Homo sapiens: one gene and its partners. The protein of the gene in region 3 binds, or shares a complex with, the protein of the main gene of each other region. Each region holds a gene or a part of one and is shown on either strand. Other genes may lie near its edges.

Region 1 (7,027 bases), on a different chromosome or scaffold from region 3:
CTTTTAGAAAACACAATTCTTATTCTAAAATGTACTTCCAAATTCAAAGCTTATTGCCTGTAAATTCTTAAGCAATCTGATTTATTCTGAAACAAATTTATCAGGCTGGGCATGGTGGCTTATGCCTGTAATCCCAGCACCTTGGGATGCCAAGGCAGAAGAATGAGGATGGCTTCAGGCCAGGAGTTTCAGACCAGCCTGGGCAACACAGTGAGACCCATCTCTACAAAAAATAAAAAAAAATTGCTGGGCAATGCTGGAGTCTGATGTGGGAGATTTGCTTGAGCCCAAGGGTTCAAGGCTGCAGTGAGCTATGATTGCACCACAGTGCTCCAGGCTGGGCAATAAAGTGAGACCTTGTCTCAAAAAAAAAAAAAAAAAAGTATCACCCTTCAGCTATAGTTTTCTATACAAATATAAGCCTTCCAAGACATGTACAATGCTTTTGCCAACCAAAAAAAATACTCTGAACTCTGCAAATATTGAAGAACCAGGCATAGTGCATTAATCATATTGAAAGCTGAAGGATCAGCAGGGTACAGTGGCTCACACCTATGATCCCAGCACTTTGGGAGGCCGAGGCAGGTGGATCACTTGAGGTCAGGAGTTCAAGACCAGCCTGGCCAACATAGTGAAACCCCGTCTCTACTAAAAATACAAAAATTAGCCGTAAGTAGTGGTGCACACCTGTAATCCCACTACTTGGGAGGCTGAAGCAGGAGAATCGCTTGAATCCGGGAGGCAGAGGTTGTGGCGAGCCGACAGTGCACCACTGCACTCCAGCCTGGGAGACAGAGCAAGACTCTGTCTCAAAAAGAAAGAAAGAAAGAAAAAAAAAAAAAAAGCAAAGGGATCTTTATCTTTGTGACTGAGTTATGTCTGTTTTCTTCCAGATGACAGAATAAACCGAGTAAGAGCAATAAAAAATTATGCTTCACAAAATCAAAACTAAAAGGTAAATGTAAGCCACACAGTATTCCTATGTAAAATGATGTGGGATTTAAGCTGTTATTGAGTAGATTCAACTCTCAAGAGCCAAACCAAAATCACATGCAGCAACAACTTAAGACTTTTTCCTAATATACCACATACTCACAGATAAAAACGCAAGGAGCAATGTCCACTCTTACTACTTACAGTAGTCCCTGAAAATGGTGAGATTTAAAGCAGAAATCAGTACTGCTTTTCCTGCTCTAGAATTACATCTTAAGGAAAAGAGGCTTTTGAGACTAGAGAGTGTCTATGATCCTTCTGGCAGAACCTTATACTTATTCTCAAAAGTGTCAGTAATTATCCCTCCTTCGTGGCATGAACACAACTTACTACAAAGCAAGCTAGACCAATGAAGCTCATCAGCTGTTTCTGTACAATAAGCACTGCCAAAGAATATACCACTAACAGATGATCTTAAGTTCAAAAAGACCAACGAGCTGTAAGATGAAGCAACAGAGCCAGAATATGATAACCTACCAAGGCAAACGTAAAAACAAAAGGTTTTATAGCCCATCTGGTATTTATATCAGTCTGCCTGCAATGGATGACAGGTTTCTAAACCCCAAATACTTATTTGTGTAACTAAAGCTTAGTGAGAAAACTTTCTAACAAACTGCTGAGTAATAGAAAAAAATAAGAGGCGGCGGCACCATTAGAGTGAAAACTGCTGCTTCTTAATACGGCACTATACTTCCTTATCCTCAATTCCAACATTCAAATAGGTTTTTTTTTTTTTTTTTTTTTTTGAGAGGGAGTTTTGCTCTTGTTGCCCAGGCTGGAGTGCAATGGCGCGATCTCGGCTCACTGCAACCTCCGCCTCCCAGGTTCAAGCGATTCTCCTGCCTCAGCCTCCCGAGTGCTGGGATTACAGGCATGCGCCACCACGCCTGGCTAATTTTGCATTTTTAGTAGAGACGGGGTTTCTCCATGTTGGTCAGGCTGGTCTCGAACTCCTGACCTCAGGTGATCCGCCTGCCTCGGCCTCCCAAAGTGCTGGGATTATAGGCGTGAGCCACCGTGCCTGGCCTCAGGAAGTTTTTTTAAAAAGAACTTTGGCAACAAAGCCGTACCTCACTTGGTGACACTACTTATAATTTTTATTTGGGCCATTTAATGTAAATATTTATATATATATTTGCTTTAAAAATGTTTCAGAGTCTGGAGTGTTACATAATGTATGTTACACAGACTATATTTCTCTTCTAAAATCCAAAAAATTCTGAATTCCAATGCACATCTGGTCCCAAGGGCATCTAATGAGGTACTGTGGGTCCATAGTTCTTTTCTTTTCTATGTCCAAAGGACAATTTAAAGGTAGTAGAGATGATGTCATACTATTAGGAAATAGTGAAACATTATAGTTAAGGAATATGTTGCATATAGACCAAAATTCATTTTTTCAGTGAATCCAGAACTCTAGTAATGGTAAATATCACTAAAAACTGGGGTGCTAATATTTCTTCATTAATTACATATTTCTTTCCATGTTCCCAGCCCATTAATTCAAAACAGTTTTAACTCCACAAATCAGAAACAAATCCTACAAGAGTCACGCTGAGGGAGGCAAATGAATTGTCTACATAAAACTCACAGATAAGTTCTAAAAAGCAATGTCATATAGCCACTGAGTAATAAAAACCATTTTTAATTTGACATCTTGGAAAGAAAATTCTGAAATTCCAAAGTCTTATCCAACAGAAAGTGAAAGCAGACTTGTTATTTACTTCACAGAAAGCTTAGTGATCATATCTGCTATTGTCAGTCCACTGACATAAATGAAGTTCCCATGTGAATTCTTGCTACTCATTTAGATACATGAGAACTCCCTTTCATCAGGCTGGTTTGGCAATGCTCCCTAAAGTTCTTTTAGGTGAGTATCAGACCTGGCAAGCAGCTGGTGGGCAAAATAATTCTGGGCCTGTGGGAGGCTTGTGCCTATAAACGAGAGGTCAAGAGACAGGCCTGTAGGTTGCTACTTGTGTGTGGCTGACATGGGTTTTGTGCTGGGAGAAAACTTATTTTTCAAAGTACTACTATAGTGGACAGTAGAAATTTTTAAGTTTCCCACTTAACAAGCAAACATCAGAAAGGTTAGAACAGAGTATATTCGATTCTTCTTGCCACTTCAGTCTCTAGGTTGTTAATGAGGCAAATCAGCACGTACCTGAGCATATTTGGCAAGTCAGCTGGAAAAATCTGTTTCAGTTTTAATCCTCAAGTATACTTTTACATTTTTTAAATAGCTTGCTTTTTTCTTCCTTTTTTTGTTTTTAGAGATGGGGTCTTGCCATGTTACCCAGGCTGGTCTAAAGCCATCCGCCTTGGCCTCCCAAAGTTGCTGGGATTAATTACAGGCATGAGCCACCGCGTCCAGTCCAATTTAAAAAATATCTTTAAATAAAAATTGGCCAGACTCAGAGGATCACACCTGTAATCCCAGCACTTTGGGAGACCAAGGCAGGCAGATGGATCGCTTGAGCCCAGGAGTTTGAGACCAGCCTGGGTAATATGGTGAGACACCATTTCTATAAAAATATAAAAACGAGTTGGGCATGGTGGTATACTCCTGTAGTCCCAGCTACTCCAGGGGCTGAGGTGGGAGAATTGCTTGTACCCGAGAAGTCGAGGCTGCAGTGAGCCAAGATCATACCACTGCATTCCAGTCTGGGCGACAGACTGAGACTCTGTCTCAAAAAAAAAAAAAAAAAAAAAAAAAAAAAATATATATATATATATATATAACCTTATCTAAGAATGAAATGAAATATGGCCATGTGTGGTGGCTCATGCCTGTAATCCCAGCACTTTGGGAGGCTGAGGTGGGCAGAGTGCTTGAGCCCAAAAGTTTGAGACCAGCCTGGGCAACGTGGCAAGACTCTGTCTCTACAAAAAAATACAAAACTTAGCTGGGTGTGTGGCAACACATGCCTGTGGTCCAAGCTACTCAGGAGGCTGGGGTGGGAGGACTGCTTGAGCCAGGGAAGGTTAAGGCTGTAGTGAGCGGAGATTGTGCCACTGCACTCCATTCCAGCCTGAGCAACAAAGTAAGGCCTTGTCTCAAAAAAGAATGAAACATTCTATGACAAGTTTTATGAAGAGAGAAAGCTATGGCTTTCTATGGTGGGGAAATAAGATAAAAAAAATCAAACATAGTTATCAATATATTTTATATTACTTTGGCTTATGCCAACAATTCACTGTAAGGTAAAATATAGTATAGAAAGAATTTCTTTTTTTTTTTTTTTTTCGAGATGGAGTTTTGCTCTTGTTGCCCAGGCTAGAGTGCAATGGCACGATCTCGGCTCACCTCAACCTCCGCCTCCTGGGTTCAAGCAATTCTCCTGCCTCAGCCTCCCAAGTAGCTGGGATTACAGGCGTGCACCACCACACCCGGCTAATTTTTTAGTATAGAAAGCATTTCTAGAAAAATTTGGTAAAGCTTGTTTGCCATCAACTTGGATTTCTTACCAGTATCACTCTAGAAAGTTTTGCTTTCTAGGAAAAATGGGTTTATTAGGCTTCACATCTACTGTAAGCATCAAGCATCTGCTAATTTTTTTTTTTTTTTTTGAGACAGAGTCTTGCTGTGTTGCCCAGCTGGAATGTAGTGGCGTGATCTTGGCTCACTGCAACCTCTGCCTCCTGGGTTCAAGTGATTCTCTTGCCTCAGCCTCCTGAGTAGCTGGGACTTCAGGCGTGTGCCACCACGCCCGGCAGATTTTTTGTATTTTTGGTGGAGACAGGGTTTCACCGTGTTAGCCAGGATGGTCTCGATCTCCTGACCTTGTGATCTGCCAGCCTCGGCCTCCTAAAGTGCTGGGATTACAGGCGTGAGCCACTGCACCTGGCTGCTAATTTTTCTTTTTAAATAAAGTTTTTAAAAAGGATTAACTTTCAGTAGGTTTTACATATTATTTCAAGAATCATTCACAGACTCTATTCTTTACCACGTATACTTTAAATACTGTGGTAATAATTTCTCCTGTTAGTAAAATATCAGTGTTTCTCATTATTGCAAGGGTTTGCCTTTTATGGCATACTGCACCTTTAAGCATAATACATAATGCACAATCATCAGTTCTCACAAGATATATCATTTTCTGTCCAAGAATACTGTGACTCCAATTAGTTAACAATTAGAAAATGTATGTGAACACCACGTGGTGACCCACTTTTCTTATGTCCTTTGTATTGCTGGGACTTAGCCTTTTTCTTCTGTTTTGATGAAGCTGATTGGTTTTCTCTTGATGCTGAAAAATAAAAAGGGAAAATTGGTACTAGATAATTGTTTACAATTTAGACGATACAGTTGTCTAGATACAACTTATATGAACTATCTTTACCAAGACCATTATACTTAAGTACATGATGCTCTGAAAATAAGGGTACTTGTTCCTACAAAACCATAGCCTCAACATGAGACATTTTCCACTATTTACTCAAAAGCATTTATTACCTACCAATAAACTTTTAGTATGTAATTTTTAACTCACTAAAATAGTAAGTCTAGTTTAATTTGGTGACTGTTGTGTTTCTATAGTCATTATGTAATTGACTATTGGATTCACATTGCCATGGGACACATGGTCTGATTCTGTGATATTGTTGTTGAGTCTTAATGTCTTACCTGGCAACCAATCAGACATAGGTATATTCTTGTCCTGTGAGCTCATAAGATGACTTATGTGAGATAGTCCTCTGGAGAATTGCTGATTTTTACAAAAGGACACCTTTTCTGTATACCAACTTACACTGTGATGCTGGAGGCTGTAGTTGATATCCAGTTAACTGACACCACCCTACAGGATAGAGGTCAGGTGACTCACAGTCTACCCACTGATCATACTCTTCTTCCCATCCATCAAAATGTATCCTCAAGAGACGATGAATAATTCGAGTTACTGTGGCTACACATATTAAACGTGGCTCCATGAGATCTACTGCTTCTAATTTCATTCCTACACGAAATCCGTGATTTGGAACATCCTGACACAGAGAAGAAAACATTAATATTGGTATGAAGAAGAAAGAATGCACAACCCTACTATCACTAAGAAAGCAAAAAACAGAAGCGACTAGCTAAATAACATAATTATAAACCATAAATTCCAAATAATTCTTTAACTATTTAAACATAGTACGAAGGTGAAGTATTTAAAAACTAGTTAGGAAAAATCTTCATTTCTATTTCCTTCAGATTAAAAACGAAACATAGTTTGGAAACAAGTTTTGATTCCTAGGTAAAGAAAATATTTATATTGTTTCATTGCTATATTTGTTTATATTATATCTCCACTAAGAAATTCTAATACAAGGCAAAGACATTTTTATGAACATAAATTGTATTTGTGGGGCATTAATAAGTCCTCACATAATTATGCTGCCATTTAAATTTACCTTATTAAATAGTTTTACTGGTGCTGCAATGGAGCCAGTTTCCCTGAGGTAGTCAAACCATTTAAAAGGAAGTTTTGTGTAACCTAAAAAACACAACTGGTTTAACTAGCAGTTCATTTAAAATTAGCATAATATTAAAATGCAGACAAAAAGTAACAGTACAAAAAATCTTAAGAGCATAGGTTATATGATCAACTTTATTTTTTTTGAGACAGGGTCTTGCTCTGTCGCCCAGGCTGGAGTGCAGTAGTGCCCTCAAAGGCTTACTGCAGCCTCAACCTCCAGGGCTCAAGTGATCCTCCTGCCTTAGCCTCTCTAGTAGCTGGGACTACAGGCACATGCCACTGTGACAGGCTAATTTTTTGTTGTTTTTAGTAGAGACAGGGTCTCCCTATGTTGCCCGGGTTGTTCTCAAACTCCTGGTCTCAAGCAATCCTCCTACCTGAGTCTCCCAAAGTGCTGGGATTATTGGCGTGAGCCACTGCACCTGGCCTATATGATTTATACTGCTGAGTGCAATAATTCCTCCATGTTACACAGATTTCCCTCCCCTCTCTAGAAACACTGGTGTGCCTACTTAGTCTAACGCAAAAGTGGCTCTCTTTTTCTGTTTACTACAATGGTACATTTTTGCTCT
Region 2 (7,027 bases), on a different chromosome or scaffold from region 3:
ATATGGAGAAAGAAGAAAAAGGAAAACCAAATACATTATTCAGTTGACTTAATGTACAAGTGACATTAAAAATTTTAATGATTATATGTCTGTGCTGGGAAATAATGTAATTTAGACTCACTAACATTATGTTCTCTGCAACCATTTTTATTTCTTTTTTACATCTACACAGGTTGTCGAAATAATAATTCCACAGCCTCTTCTAACAATGCCTACAATGTGAATTCCTCCCAACCTCTGGGATCCTATAACATTGGCTCGTTATCTTCAGGAACTGGTGCAGGGGCAATTACCATGGCAGCTGCTCAAGCAGTTCAGGCTACAGCTCAGGTAAAAAGTAAAGGGTTTAGAGACAAAATGTTACATTTTGTCGGAATCATTGGAAACCTAATAGAAATAACGGGATGTGAACAAATAGTTTTCTAACGTTGTATATTTTCATTTTTAAGTCATGATTTCACGATATGTGATATTTTATTTAATGAAATAATACATAGGAATTGCCTGATTGATAATGAAAACTAAAAAATAGGTTTATCATGCGGATTACATGCAGACCCTTCTCACAATAACTGCTCATGTTGCCCATGTTCTTGACTGCAGTCCACAGCACATGCTAGCATAGTTCTTCGTTCTTTCTGCCAGTTCCAAGGCTTCCCCTGTAGCCTTGGACTTAGGTCATCTTGAGTTTGTTCACTTCTGTATAGTTTGCCTATATTCCAAATTAAGAAGCTGCCCATCCCATAGTTTATATTCTAACTGTGTAAAATCTTATTTTAAATCTTTAAATGAAAAAGGTTAGGCCAGGCATGGTGACTCACACCTGTAATCCCAGCTCTTTGATAGGCCGAGGCAGGTGGATCACTTGAGGTCAGGAGTTCAAAACCAGCCTGGTCAACATGGTGAAACTCCATTTCTACTAAAAATACAAAAAAATTAGCTGGGTGCCTGGTGGGTGCCTGTAATCCCAGCTACTCGGTAGGCTATGGCAGGAGAATTGCTTGAACCTGAGAGGTGGAGGTTGCAGCGAGCCAAAATCGTGCCACTAGACTCCAGCCCAAGCGACAGATTGAAACTCCACCTCAAAAAAAAAAAAAAAAAAAAGCTTAAATTCCAGTGATGAAAATAATAGTTTAAACAATATAAATTAACATTTGATAAACCAAAATAAAACTATAATTTGTAAAACTTGAAAAAGAAAATCTACATATTTACATATATTGATGCTATCAATGAATGTCTATTTAAGATGAAGGAGGGACGAAGAACATCAAGTTTAAAAGCCAGTTATGAAGCATTTAAGAATAATGACTTTCAGTTGGGAAAAGAATTTTCAATGGCCAGGGAAACAGTTGGCTATTCATCATCTTCGGCACTTATGACAACATTAACACAGAATGCCAGTTCATCAGCAGCCGACTCACGGAGTGGTCGAAAGAGCAAGTAAGTTTTATTGTTACAGTAGCCCTATACCTTTACTGAACACTTGGTCTACTTGACACTTCAGCCAGGCCTCTCTATGTTAAAGGCAGGATATAACGGATTAAAATTAACCTTGCAGAGGTAGGGAGACATGCGGTTTTCATTTTATAGTGCCATACTTTGAAGGTGTCAAGTCTTTAAAAAGTGTTAGAGTTGTTTTTAATTTTTCTAGAGTCATAAATTGAGTTTGTTAATACATGACTTCTTTTTATCTTCTTTTATTCATTAAGATAAATCATTTTATGGAACTGCTTTTCATTTATTACCCTTTATTTTGCCATGTGTTTCAAGGTAAATTAATGCAATGCAAATTATATCCTGGTGATTTTTTTTTTTTAAACAAGATTTTTCATTTTGATTAACAGCAAGCAAGGCGTCTTCATTCTTAGTCTTGGGTCCCAAAAACTGATGGTGTAAAAATATCCCTAGATTTTGTATATGAGACTTGGGATGACTGTATAAGCTTTAAATATGAAAACCTAATAGCATTTATCACTGTCTATCCCAGGTAACTGAATATGCTGGGTGTTTATACATAATGAAAGTTCAAATGCTAGGCCAAAATAATTAGTTACCTAGTAGTTATATTTTCTGTATTTTAAAATATGTTATATTTTTTGTGAATTAATCCCTTAAAGAACGATCAATATGAAATAACCACAACAGAAGTGTCAAACATCTTAAAAATTAATTCATCTTAATGGTACAAGTTTAATGTAATTTCTTATGATAAAGTTCTATACTTTTAGAATTTAAATAGCATAGGGCTTAGCAGTAAATTACTTGTGAATTTTTACAGTCTTGGTTCCCTGCCATACTCATGGTAGGTATTCACACATCAGTTGATGGTTATAACCACTTTCATCAAATGTTTTTGTGTGTGTGTGCTTTAGGTTTTGATGAAGAGTATTCAGTTTACTTAAAAATACGAATAATGAGTGGCTGGGCGGGGTGGCTCATGCCTATAATCCCAGCACTTTGGGAGGCCGAGGTGGGCAGATCACGAGGTCAGGAGATCGAGACCATCCTGGCTAACACGATGAAACCCCATCTCTACTAAAAATACAAAAAATTAGCCAGGCATGGTGGCGGGCGCCTGTAGTCCCAGCTACTCGGGAGGCTGAGGCAGGAGAATGGCGTGAACCTGGGAGGTGGAGCTTGCGGTGTGCAGAGATCGCGCCACTGCACTCCAGTCTGGGCAACAGAGCGAGACTCCATCTCAAAAAAAAAAAAAAAATACAAATAATGTCTGTAAAGTAGCCAGAACTTATGTTAATTCTTCAAAGTACTACCTACAATTTAAGTCATTGGTAAATCCGGATTACTTTAGCTTACACTTTAATTTATACATTTGATGTCATTTCATTTTATACTATTTATTTAGGAGTTATTCTCAGTTAACTTCTGGATGGTGAGCAAATAAAACTTATACTATTTTTTTCAGAAACAACAACAAGTCTTCAAGCCAGCAGTCATCATCTTCCTCCTCCTCTTCTTCCTTATCATCGTGTTCTTCATCATCAACTGTTGTACAAGAAATCTCTCAACAAACAACTGTAGTGCCAGAATCTGATTCAAATAGTCAGGTTGATTGGACTTACGACCCAAATGAACCTCGATACTGCATTTGTAATCAGGTAAAAGTCTGTTATATCTATAAAAGTATAATCTGAATAAACTAGAAGGAAGAGAACTATTTCATTTTTAAGCACTTTTTTAAACTCACTTAAAATACCTTTGCTTTATTTGTATACTTTTCTCCCCCTTCTTACAAAAGTGACATTTGCTGTAAATACTGAGTATAAAGAAAAATGTTACCCATAATCCTAGCCCTCAGATACAACCTGTAACTAAACATTTTTGGTATACCACTACCATATACCTCATGTGCACATTGGCTGCCTTAATAAAATACAACAGACTGGGTAGCTTAAACAACAGAAAATAATTTTCTCACAGGTATGAAGGCTGGGAAGTCCAAGATCAAGGTGTCCACTGACTCAGTTCTGGAGGAGGGCTCCCTTCCTAGATGGAGACTGCTGCCTTCTCACCGGGTCCTCACATGATAGAGGGAGAAAGAGTGTGCTCTGGTGTCTTTTCTTATAAGGGCACCAGCCTTGTCAGAGTAGGACCCCACTCTATGACCTCATTTAACCTTTACCACCTCCTCACAGGCCCTGTTTCCAATTATAGTCACGTTGGGGGTTAGGGCTTCAACATATGATTTTGAGACATAAGCTTGCATTTCATAACACGTGTCTATGCAGATTTGCACATGCATGTGTGTATAAGTTTGTCAGTAGGAACCACAGTGTATACTTTCTTGTTACTGGCTTTTTTCTCTAAATCAGGTATACCGAACATGATTTTTCTTTAAGATCATATTTTTAATTTTCACATAGTTATCTCTTATGCCATCCAGTGTAGTTTTCTTAACCAATACCTAGCTATAGATTATATTAGTGGTTTTAATTTGTTTGAAATTAGGGATAATATTACGATAGGCATTTTTTAAATGTAATCCATTTTATACATCTAATTTCTTGGATAATCTTTTAGAAATAAAATTAGGCTGTAAATATTTGACAGACACCAAAATATATTTTCTAGAAATTTATTACCAAAAATTAATAAACATACCGGTTTACTAAACCCTGTCCAACACTGGATATTATTTTCTTTTAAAAACTAAGTACCAATTTGGTAGTTTTATATTATGATTGTTTTAAATACACTAGTATTATTGAAGTTGGACATTTTTTGACCATTTTTGTTTTTTACATTATGAATCGACTCCTAATGGTGTCGGCTGATTTTTCTATTGTTTTTGTTATGTACTCTAAATATTTGCTTGATTTAGTTTTTTAAAAATAATTCTAAAATTTTAATTTTATGTAGTTATGACTGTTAATTTTTTTTTATGAAGCAAGCCATGGATTATATACTTAGAAGGGCTTTCTCTTTGGCTCTTCTTTCTACAAAAAATTGTCTTGTATAATATTTTCTCCTAGTTTTTATATGGTTTTGTCTAGTTCTTTGCATGCTTCAGTTTCTTCACATTTAAGACTTAGTCTATCAGCAGATTATTGTGTCTAACAGTATGAGTTGCCAGTCTGATTTTTAAAAATTTTAACAATTTGTTAGCTGTTCCACTATCACCCGATAAACATTTTTCAGTACAAATGATAGAAAAGCATATCCTGTATCCTGACAACAAAAGTAGATTACTTGCAAAAGAACAAAATCAGACTGAACCTAGAGTTTTCCTCTGTAACACTAAAAAACTAGAAGGTGATGGAATATGTCTGTAGAGCTTTCAGGGAAAAATTAAGAGCCCCCAAAAACTTGATATTCAGAGAAGTTATTTCTCTGCATAGGACCATGTAAATATATTTTCACTCATGCAGAGAATCAGAAGATATGCCATCTAGTTAATCCTGTCTGAAAAATTATTCAATCCACTGAGAACTTCAGTGAACTCAAGAATTAGCAAGTTATGCCCTAAAGTGCTGGTGATGAAGAGCAAAAGAAAAATGAGAAAGGACATAAAATAGATAAGTTTAGAAGTTTCAAGGAAGGAGACTATTAATTGCAAAAATATAAATGACCTAATGTGACCCAAGAAGTAAAAACTTTCAGTAAGTAAATAATCAAGAAAGGAACTTAAAATTTTTACAATAAGAACTACCCAGAAAGATGACTCCTTCATCCGGGTGATTTATATGTCAAGTTCTTCCAGACTTCTGAAGGGCAGATAATTCCTGTGCATTTCTTCCCACCCTTGCCCCACCCTGCCCAAAAGAGTATTTCAGGAAAAAATTATTATACCTTGATTCTCAATGTAATTGTATATTCAGTGTATTTCCCTTTATTTTCCAGCAGTATCATACATAAACAGTTAATTGGTATCTAGGTGTTTGTTACATAGTCATAATAAAGACATTTAATTTTTTTTAACTAGGTATCTTATGGTGAGATGGTGGGATGTGATAACCAAGATGTAAGTATTACATTTTTCTATTTAGGAATGAAAAAAATCACAGGTTGTTATTACTTGAATATTTGTCTTATTTGCTGTATGGTTTGGTCTAAGAAAACAGGTTTGCAGGTATATTAGTTATATTATGCTAATGCTAGAATATTCCTCTTCAAAATAGGGTAGTGTCCCTTAATGTGTTCCCTATTTTAATTTTTAAAGCTAATTTTATGGTTTTATGTGCAGATTGTCTCAGAAGTGTTATGTTGTATGAAAATTATAAATACCCTCCTTTCCCTTTACTAAAAAATACTGTGTTTACTAGAATCCAGTTCATTTATCACATTGAAGAAATGGAATTTTAAAACAATTCATTCTTTCAGGCTGCACCGTGCTAAAGTGAAGGGTGGGATAATTGAGGATCTAATGTGAGATTATCTTCCTCTCATGAGTATAATATTTTTTCCTGTACTCTGCAGGTGTCAGCTGATAAGAGCCACCCCTGATCTAAAAAGTAAAGGAAATTTGAAAGGAAGGAATTCTTGGTTTTTAGGAGACTTAATTTTAGTTAGAGATACGTTTTTTATTCAATACTGAGAATATTGTTGTCTAGTAATTTTGACTCCCTCCTTATTTAGTAGTGACAGGATCCTAAGATTAACAAGAGTTTTAAATTTGTAAAACAATCTGAAGATTGAGGGAGCTGGCTAGGTGCATTAAAATGTGTACTTTTCCTAGACCTGATAGGGTTACAGCAACATGCTCACGTAGATTGGGACAGAGCCTCCTTCTGTTTCCCTGTCTAGAATCCCTTGTAGGCTGTTTGTGGTTGTTGCAAAAACAATATTGCCCAACCATTTCAAGAACATCACTGTAAACTCTTCTGGGGCAGTTAGTGAAAATGATGAATGAGATTTCTATGAGTACCAGCATCATGCTTCTCTGATTCTTCTTATTCCCAGTTGTGCTCTTCTGAGTGCTAAGACTTTCATGAAAGAGTTTTCTGCTTAATATGTTTCAAAGAGGAATAATTTTTCTCTACATTTCAAGGAATAGAAACACCCACGTAGGAAATGCAGGGCATAAGACATAAATTAATGTCTTTAATTACAATCAGCTTATTCTACTTTATGAGACAGCAAATAAGGCTGACTATTAAATAAAATCTTAAGTTATATTTACCTTCTACATAGAAGATTCATCCCACTTCTTTTTGCCCTTGAAAGCTGAAAACTAGTGAATTTTCATTCATTAGGATGAGGGGACTAGATTACATGGACCTCAGGATTCTTGAAGATGCATAATTTTTCTGTGCCTTCATTTCCTCATTCCTGAAGCTTATCATTTAGTCTAAATGATGTCTAAATAATCTAGATCTAAAAATTCTGATGTCACACATCTAATTATTGTTAAATTAAATGGATTATTCAGTCTCCTGAGCATATTTTAATATACTCTCTTGTCTTCAGAAGTACTGAAAACTTGTTTTTTGCAATTTTGCTTTCTAGTGCCCTATAGAATGGTTCCATTATGGCTGCGTTGGATTGACAGAGGCACCAAAAGGCAAAT
Region 3 (7,027 bases):
GTAGACACCCCTCTTATAATTAAGCAAATAAAAATTTTAAAAAAGTGTTTGAGGCTGGGTGTAGTGGCTCATGCCTGTAATCTCAACACTTTGGGAGGCCAAAACGGTTGGATCATTTGAGGTCAGGAGTTCAAGTCCAGCCTGGCCAACATGGTGAAACCCCATCTCTACTAAAAATAAAAAAATTAGCCAGGTGTGGTGGCACACGACTGTAGTCCCAGCTGCTGGGGAGGCTGAGGCAGGAGAATCGCTTGAACCCAGGAGGCGAAGGTTGCAGTGAGCTGAGATTGCACCACTGTATTCTAGCCTAGGCGACAGAGTGAGACTCAGGAAAAAAAAAAAAAAAGCGATTGAACACATAAAAAACTAAGGGAAACTACGACAAGGGAATAGAATAAAGAAGATATTTTTAAAAACCTTAAAAAATTATTTTAGAATTTCACCTTAGTAACTGTGAATACAGCTTTTGTGCTTAGTTCTTTTTCACATATAATAGATAACCCTGTATAAAATTGCACACATAGATGTGTACAGCGCAAAGACTGGATTTTAAGTGGCATTTGTAGCTTGTCACAAGTTGTGAAAATACCAAATGCTTGTATTTTCAGATTTTATTGTTTCGAAAAATAATGGGCATTTTCCTCTTTGGTGTATTGTAGTCCAGTAACTCAAAGAAATGATAGGTTTGTGTAGATTTTTTTGTTCTCAACTAATTTGACACATATTAATTACTGTTGGGGAAAGTTAAGAAAAAATAGCATCAAATATTAGAGATTTGTTACTATCTTTGTAGATGTATTGAGGAATATTAATATATCAGAAATGTCTTTGGTTGACTTGGCATGTAGATAAATATATGCAATGTTGAAAGAATGATCTTAGCTTTAGAAAGTCTTTAAAGAAACCTTTAAATTCATTTTGAAAGGGGGAGGAGTTATTCAGATACCTAGTGTGTTGTGTATTTAGTCTATGTAAGTACTGCCCATGGATCATTGTGACTCTGGGAATTAGTCACATTACCGTTAGAAAACTATGAAATTCTGGGCCAGGCGCGGTGGCTCACACCTGTAATCCCAGCACTTTGGGAGGCCGAGGCGGGCAGATCACAAGGTCAGGAGTTCTAGACCAGCCTGGCCAACATGATGAAATCCCGTCTCTAGTAAAAATACAAAAATTAGCCAGGTGTGGTGGTTCATGCCTGTAATCCCAGCTAGTTTGTAGGCTGAGGCAGGAGAACTGCTTGAACCTGGGAGGCAGAGGTTGCAGTGAGCCGAGATCGTGCCACTGCACTCCAGCCTGGGCGACAGAGCAAGACTCCATCTCAAAAAAAAAAACAAAAAGCTGAAATTCTTGCCAGGCGCGATGGCTCATGCCTGTAATCCCAGCACTTTGGGAGGCCTAGGCAGGTGGATCACGAGGTCAGGAGTTCAAAACCAGCCTGGCCATGGTGGTGAAACTCTGTCTCTACTAAAAATTAGCTGGGTGTAGTGGCGCGCACCTGTAGTCCCAGCATTTTGGGAAGCCGAGGGTGGGCGGATCACCTGAGGCTAGGAGTTCGAGACAAGCCTGACCAACATGGAGAAACCCTGTCTGTACTAAAAATACAAAATTAGCTGGGCGTGGTGGCGCATGCCTGTAATCCCAATTACTCAGGAGGCTGAGGCAGGAGAATCGCTAGAACCCAGGAGGCAGAGGTTGTGGTGAGCCAAGATCACGCCATTGCACTCCAGCCAGGGCAACGAGAGCGCAACTCTGTCTCAAAAAAAAAAAAAAAAAAAATACACACACACACACACACACACACACAAATATCTCAAAAATAATCTCATTTTGAAAATGGCTTGTGCAGGGTACTTTTTAAAATTCGTACAACAAAACCTTAATCCCTAAATTGGAATTCTCTTAAACTTCAGTTAATCTTTTTTCAAAAACATAATAGATGATGGAGATTTCTAAATTTTCAAACCTCATTGGAATTTGTTGACACACACTTAAATACTCCATTTGTAAATGAATCTTAATAAAGCTGAGGCTCAATTCTGCACCTGGTCACTGAGATTACTTTGTACTATGCTGTCTGTATCAGAAGTGCTGTGAGGCCCAGGCGCTCTGAAAAATCTTTGAAGACACATGAGGATATTGTAGCCCTTTTTCCTGTTCCTGAAGGAGCTCCCTCAGTACACCACCCCCTCCTGACCTCTAGGTAAATGCATGTTTTGAAATTTTCTCTAGGAAATCATGTTCAGGATTGCTTTTTATTATTTTCCTCTTGGCTGTATTATATAAGAGGTCAGAGGTGGGAAATCATTAAACAAAAGAAAGTCTTAAATTTTTTTTTGTAATTGGGTGCCTTGAGAGTACACCTAATTGTGTCACTAAAGGAGCTCCATCAGCAGGAGAAAAGATTTACTGCTCAAAAAAAGTTAGCATTCCCTAAGAAATTACATTGTTTTTGTTTGCCATTTTGGGGGAAAAAACACATAATCAGAAATTGTGTTTTGAACAAGCTCTTTGAAGTGCCAGAATGTCTTAACATTTTTGAGAGAGTTGGTTCTGCCTTCTAATATTTAGAAAGCCAGCTTTCTGATCAGCCTTGAAAGTTATTAGTGTGTATTCATTTGTGACTGAATGAAGGTGGAGAATGGTGTCAAATCATTTTAATACTTTACAAACTTAAGTTAGTCTAGTTGGTGTTTGAGTATTGTAGACTTCCTAATATGTTTCTGACATACCTTTAGTGTTGTTTTGTGTCAGGGATTCTCAGGTGTTTTACATGTATTCTCATAACAGTTATTTGAGATAAGTACTGTTGTTATCCTCATTTCATAGAGAATGAAATGAAAACACAAAGCTATATGGAACTTTGTCATTACACACAGCTGGTTTTAATTTTTAAAAATAACTGAGTTTTTGACTCCTGTGCTTTATTTTTGACAATAAAAGTCTTTAAGATAACATAAGACTAATCACTTAGTGAATCTTACATTAAGTGCCAAACTCTTAAGCCATTTCTAAAAATGATTTGAATAATCTGCTTTTGGACTCTGGCAGCTTAGATTTGGAATGCTGCTTTTTGAAAATAAAAAGTTTTCCTTTTTACAGAACAGACTTCCATTAGATCTTCATTTTAGTTGAGAATATATTTGTAGTGCCAGTTCATCAAATTACTTAAGAGAAATCCAGTCTTGCCTCTTGATCTCAGAAAATTAGTTGGAGAACAGAGTATTTTTGAGTTAAATTTTAACTTTCCTCTTTTTCAGTTGGGATGAATGGGTTCCGGAGAGCAGAGTACTCAAATACGTGGACACCAATTTGCAGAAACAGCGAGAACTTCAAAAAGCCAATCAGTAAGTTTGTTTTGTGAACTGAATATTAAGGAGAAATGCCTGTAGATTAATTCTGGACATGGAATGAACAATGGAGATCATGTTGGCTGCCCTGCCTATAAAATGATTCCTGGTACCTTTCAGCTGCTGTGTTACAGCTTTGACTTCAAGCGATCAAGCCATATCTAGGTAAAGGAAGTAGCATACCTGCCATTACTTGAGCTTATCTTAGACCTAGGTAGAAAACAGCAGAATGTTGTTGGAAATTGCTATAGGTATGAACTCACTGATAAAAATCTTTATTTTCGGGGGCTCTGGAAGACAAATTTGGTGGGGAAACAAGCAAACGAGGCATTTCCTATTCTGCTTTTCATCTCTGAAAGCACGGGAAAAGGGACCCTGAAAGACTCTATGATTTATAGGGTAATCTCAAAGTTGAAATGTATTTTTAAAAAAATTAAAACGATGGCTGGGCGCAGTGGCTCACGCCTGTAATCCCAGCATTTTGGGAGGCCAAGGCGGGTGGATCACGAGGTCAGGAGATCAAGACCATCCTGGCTAACACGGTGAAACCCCGTCTCTACTAAAAATTCAAAAAATTAGCCGGGCATGGTGGCGGGCGCCTGTAGTCCCAGCTACTCCGGAGGCTGAGGCAGGAGAATGGCGTGAACCCGGGAGGCAGAGCTTTCAGTGAGCGGAGATCGCGCCACTGCAGTGTAGCCTGGGCAGCACAGTGAAACTCTGTCTCAAAAAAAAAAAAAAAAAGAATTAAAATGGTAATGGGAACAAATAAAACACTGGGATTAGTGAATTCCAAAACAAATGGAATTTTCAATGCTATGAGAACAGTCTATTACAGTCACTTTTTATTACATTGATTTTAATTGAGCCTTTTGCTGTTTCTTGAGTGTTTTGTTTGATTTTTGTGGAAATATCTCTGTCCAACTTGTTAAAAACTTGTTGCCAGAATTTGAATGTAAATTCCTAATGGAATCAGGCTGACAATTTTTTTTTCACATAAATGCTCATTTTATGTTGACATTACTGAAATTATTTTTGAAGGGAGCAGTATGCAGAGGGGAAGATGAGAGGGGCTGCCCCAGGAAAGAAGACATCTGGTCTGCAACAGAAAAATGTTGAAGTGTAAGAAGCTCTTTGTTTTGATTTTGCATACTATATGTGAAGATAATATTTTATGTTCATTGTGTGTTAGACTGTGTTGAAGTGGAAACTTTGGAACATTGTTGGAACCAGTAAGAATCCCATTCCTCAGGTATCAGGTCGTTAAAGTAGTTTAAAATAACGTATTCCTTAATTTTCCTCAGCAGGTTCCCCCTCCCTTTAACTTGTGTGTATAAATATATGTGTGTGATGTTTTCTCTTACAAAGATAGTACTAGTGGTTATAAGTTTTGAGATAACTTTTGGCAAGCCTTTTCAAACCTAAAAAGCAAGTGCTGGCAAGTGCTAAAAATACATACGAATTAACCTCCACTTTGGTGAAACTCATGGTAAGAATATGTGAGAAGTTAAGGTTTCAAATAACTGCCCTCCTCATCCCCACCCCTAAGAAAACCATTGCTTTTTTTTGAGACAGAGTTTCCCTCTTGTTGCCCAGGCTGGAGTGCAGTGGTGTGATCTGTGCTCACTGCAACCTCTGCCTCCTGGGTTCAAGTGATTCTCCTGCCTCAGCCTCCCAAGTAGCGGGGATTACAGGCGTGTGCCACCACGCCTGGCTGATTTTTGTATTTTTAGTAGAGATGGAGTTTCACCATGTTGGTCAGGCTGACCTCCTGACCTCAGGTGATCCACCTGCCTTGGCCTCCCAGAGTGCTGGGATTATAGGCGTGAGCCACTGCTCCTGGCACAAAACCATTACTTCTTGTTAACTCTAGATTTTAGAACATCTGATAAGAAGCCTAGAGTGAGAAAGTCATGTGCATGCATACATTTTGTATGTTTAAAGTTTATGTAGGACGGTGCGGTGGCTCACACCTGTAATCCCCCTACTTTGTTTGGGAGGCTGAGGCAGGAGAATGGTTTGAGCCCAGGAGTTTGAGACCAACTTGGGCAACATCGGGAGCCTCTGGTTCTACAGAAAAATAAAAAAATTAGCTCGGGGGTGGTGGCACATGCTTGTAGTCCCACCTATTCAGGAGGCCGATGTGGGAGGGTCACTTGAGCCCAGGAGGTCAAGGCTGCACTTTAGTCTTGGCGACTGAGTGAGATCCTGTCTTTTAAAAAGAAAAAAAAAAAAGTTGATGTACCTGAAAGTGGATGACAAGAGTGGTAACTTAATAAGTATTCTTAAGTATTTGTAATAATAAAAACAAAAATTATAACTTTTATTAAGAGGTCATTTTATTTCCTACCAGAATTACTGATCTGATTTTTCTACTTAAAAGTAAGGTGTTACACCCAGTGCTTTGGGAGGCTGAGGTGGGAGGGATTGCTTGAGGCCAGGAGTTCTAGGCTGCAGTGATCTGTGATTGCACCACTGCGCTCCAGCCTCTTAAAAAAAGTAAGGTGTTACTAATGAAGGTATTTAGTATTTAATGCATTTGGAGATGTTTGAAGCTTTTTATTTTTTTTTAAACTCTTTTTGGTGAGAAGATAATTGGCAAGGATTAAGTGTGTTACTATTTGAGGATTGTTCATAGTTTTAATAAGTGGTAACATGTTTTCATGATCTGGTTCTTTGGAAAACTGTAGTGTAGTATTTCATTAGGATTTAATAGTAATTATGTCTTAAAAGGCAGTAATTTTCTCTATATAGAAAAGATTTTTATCAAAAGTAATAGTTCATAACTAATTCTTTATCACTGTGCTAAGTTATTATATAGAAATCTTAAGTGGTAGTATGCCCATAAGTTATTTGCATTTGAATACAGCATTGTGCAGTCTCCACTACAAAAATAATGGCTGAGTAAATATATGAAGTAAAGCTTTAAAATTTAAATTTCCCATTCTTGAACAGTAGAAGCCTCTTCAAACTGGCTTCTGAGTCTTTTGAAGGATCCTCAGTCTAGACGTTTGAAGCATGAATGTCAAGCTCTTACTACTAGGACTTATTGAAGTGTATGGGTTGAATATCCCTTATCTGAAGTGTTTCGGACCAGAAGCGTTTCAGATTCCAGACTTTTTTTGGATTTTGAAATGTTTGCGTTATACTTACCTGTTGAACATCCCAAATCCAAAATGCTTCAATGAGCATTTCCTTTGAATGTCATGTTGGCTCAGAAAATTGGGATTTTTGGAGCATTTTGGCTTTGGGATGCTGAACTCATCTATATTTTATAGATCTTTTACTTTAGAGTTGAGATCACCTGTCAGTATTTTAGTTTTATATTACAGAGGTGAGTGGGTAAAGGATTGAGTGTGAAGACTATTGGTTTCTCTTGGTCTCCACATATTGACACGTGCAAGTAAAGTTCATGGTTGACTTTGACCGAGAAATACAGTCCAACAGATTTTTACAAAACTAACAGACAAGAGAAAACCTATACACAGATTTTTGTGTTTATATCCAAACATAAGTTAATTTGAATTGTCAAACCTTAAGACCTAAATTAAATGAATATATTTAATTAATAACATTTATAAGTATTATTTAAAGCTACAGAAAAGTAAAAAATCCAGGTGTTATAGTATCTTTCCATCGAAAGTAATCCATAATCATGGGCTCTATAAACTGTTTCCTTT

Evidence for each region. Proteins that work in one complex are often made in the same cells at the same time.
Region 1: MORF4L1 (region 3) and MBTD1 share a complex: the UniProt entries of both Homo sapiens proteins name them as parts of the nuA4 histone acetyltransferase complex.
Region 2: MORF4L1 (region 3) and ING3 share a complex: the UniProt entries of both Homo sapiens proteins name them as parts of the nuA4 histone acetyltransferase complex.

Annotation. Positions count from the first base shown.
Region 1 is NC_000017.11:51,187,038-51,194,064, forward strand, and holds part of MBTD1 (MBT domain-containing protein 1), read right to left. Parts: intron 6,474-7,027; coding exon 6,391-6,473; intron 5,980-6,390; coding exon 5,745-5,979; intron 5,244-5,744; coding exon 5,166-5,243; intron 1-5,165. UniProt on the Homo sapiens protein: Chromatin reader component of the NuA4 histone acetyltransferase complex, a multiprotein complex involved in transcriptional activation of select genes principally by acetylation of nucleosomal histones H4 and H2A.
Region 2 is NC_000007.14:120,967,762-120,974,788, forward strand, and holds part of ING3 (inhibitor of growth protein 3), read left to right. Parts: intron 1-172; coding exon 173-330; intron 331-1,249; coding exon 1,250-1,443; intron 1,444-2,926; coding exon 2,927-3,119; intron 3,120-3,439; exon of another isoform or gene 3,440-3,584; intron 3,585-5,443; coding exon 5,444-5,482; intron 5,483-6,966; coding exon 6,967-7,027. UniProt on the Homo sapiens protein: Component of the NuA4 histone acetyltransferase (HAT) complex which is involved in transcriptional activation of select genes principally by acetylation of nucleosomal histones H4 and H2A.
Region 3 is NC_000015.10:78,882,881-78,889,907, forward strand, and holds part of MORF4L1 (mortality factor 4-like protein 1), read left to right. Parts: intron 1-2,086; coding exon of another isoform or gene 2,087-2,203; intron 2,204-3,260; coding exon 3,261-3,347; intron 3,348-4,388; coding exon 4,389-4,469; intron 4,470-7,027. UniProt on the Homo sapiens protein: Component of the NuA4 histone acetyltransferase (HAT) complex which is involved in transcriptional activation of select genes principally by acetylation of nucleosomal histones H4 and H2A.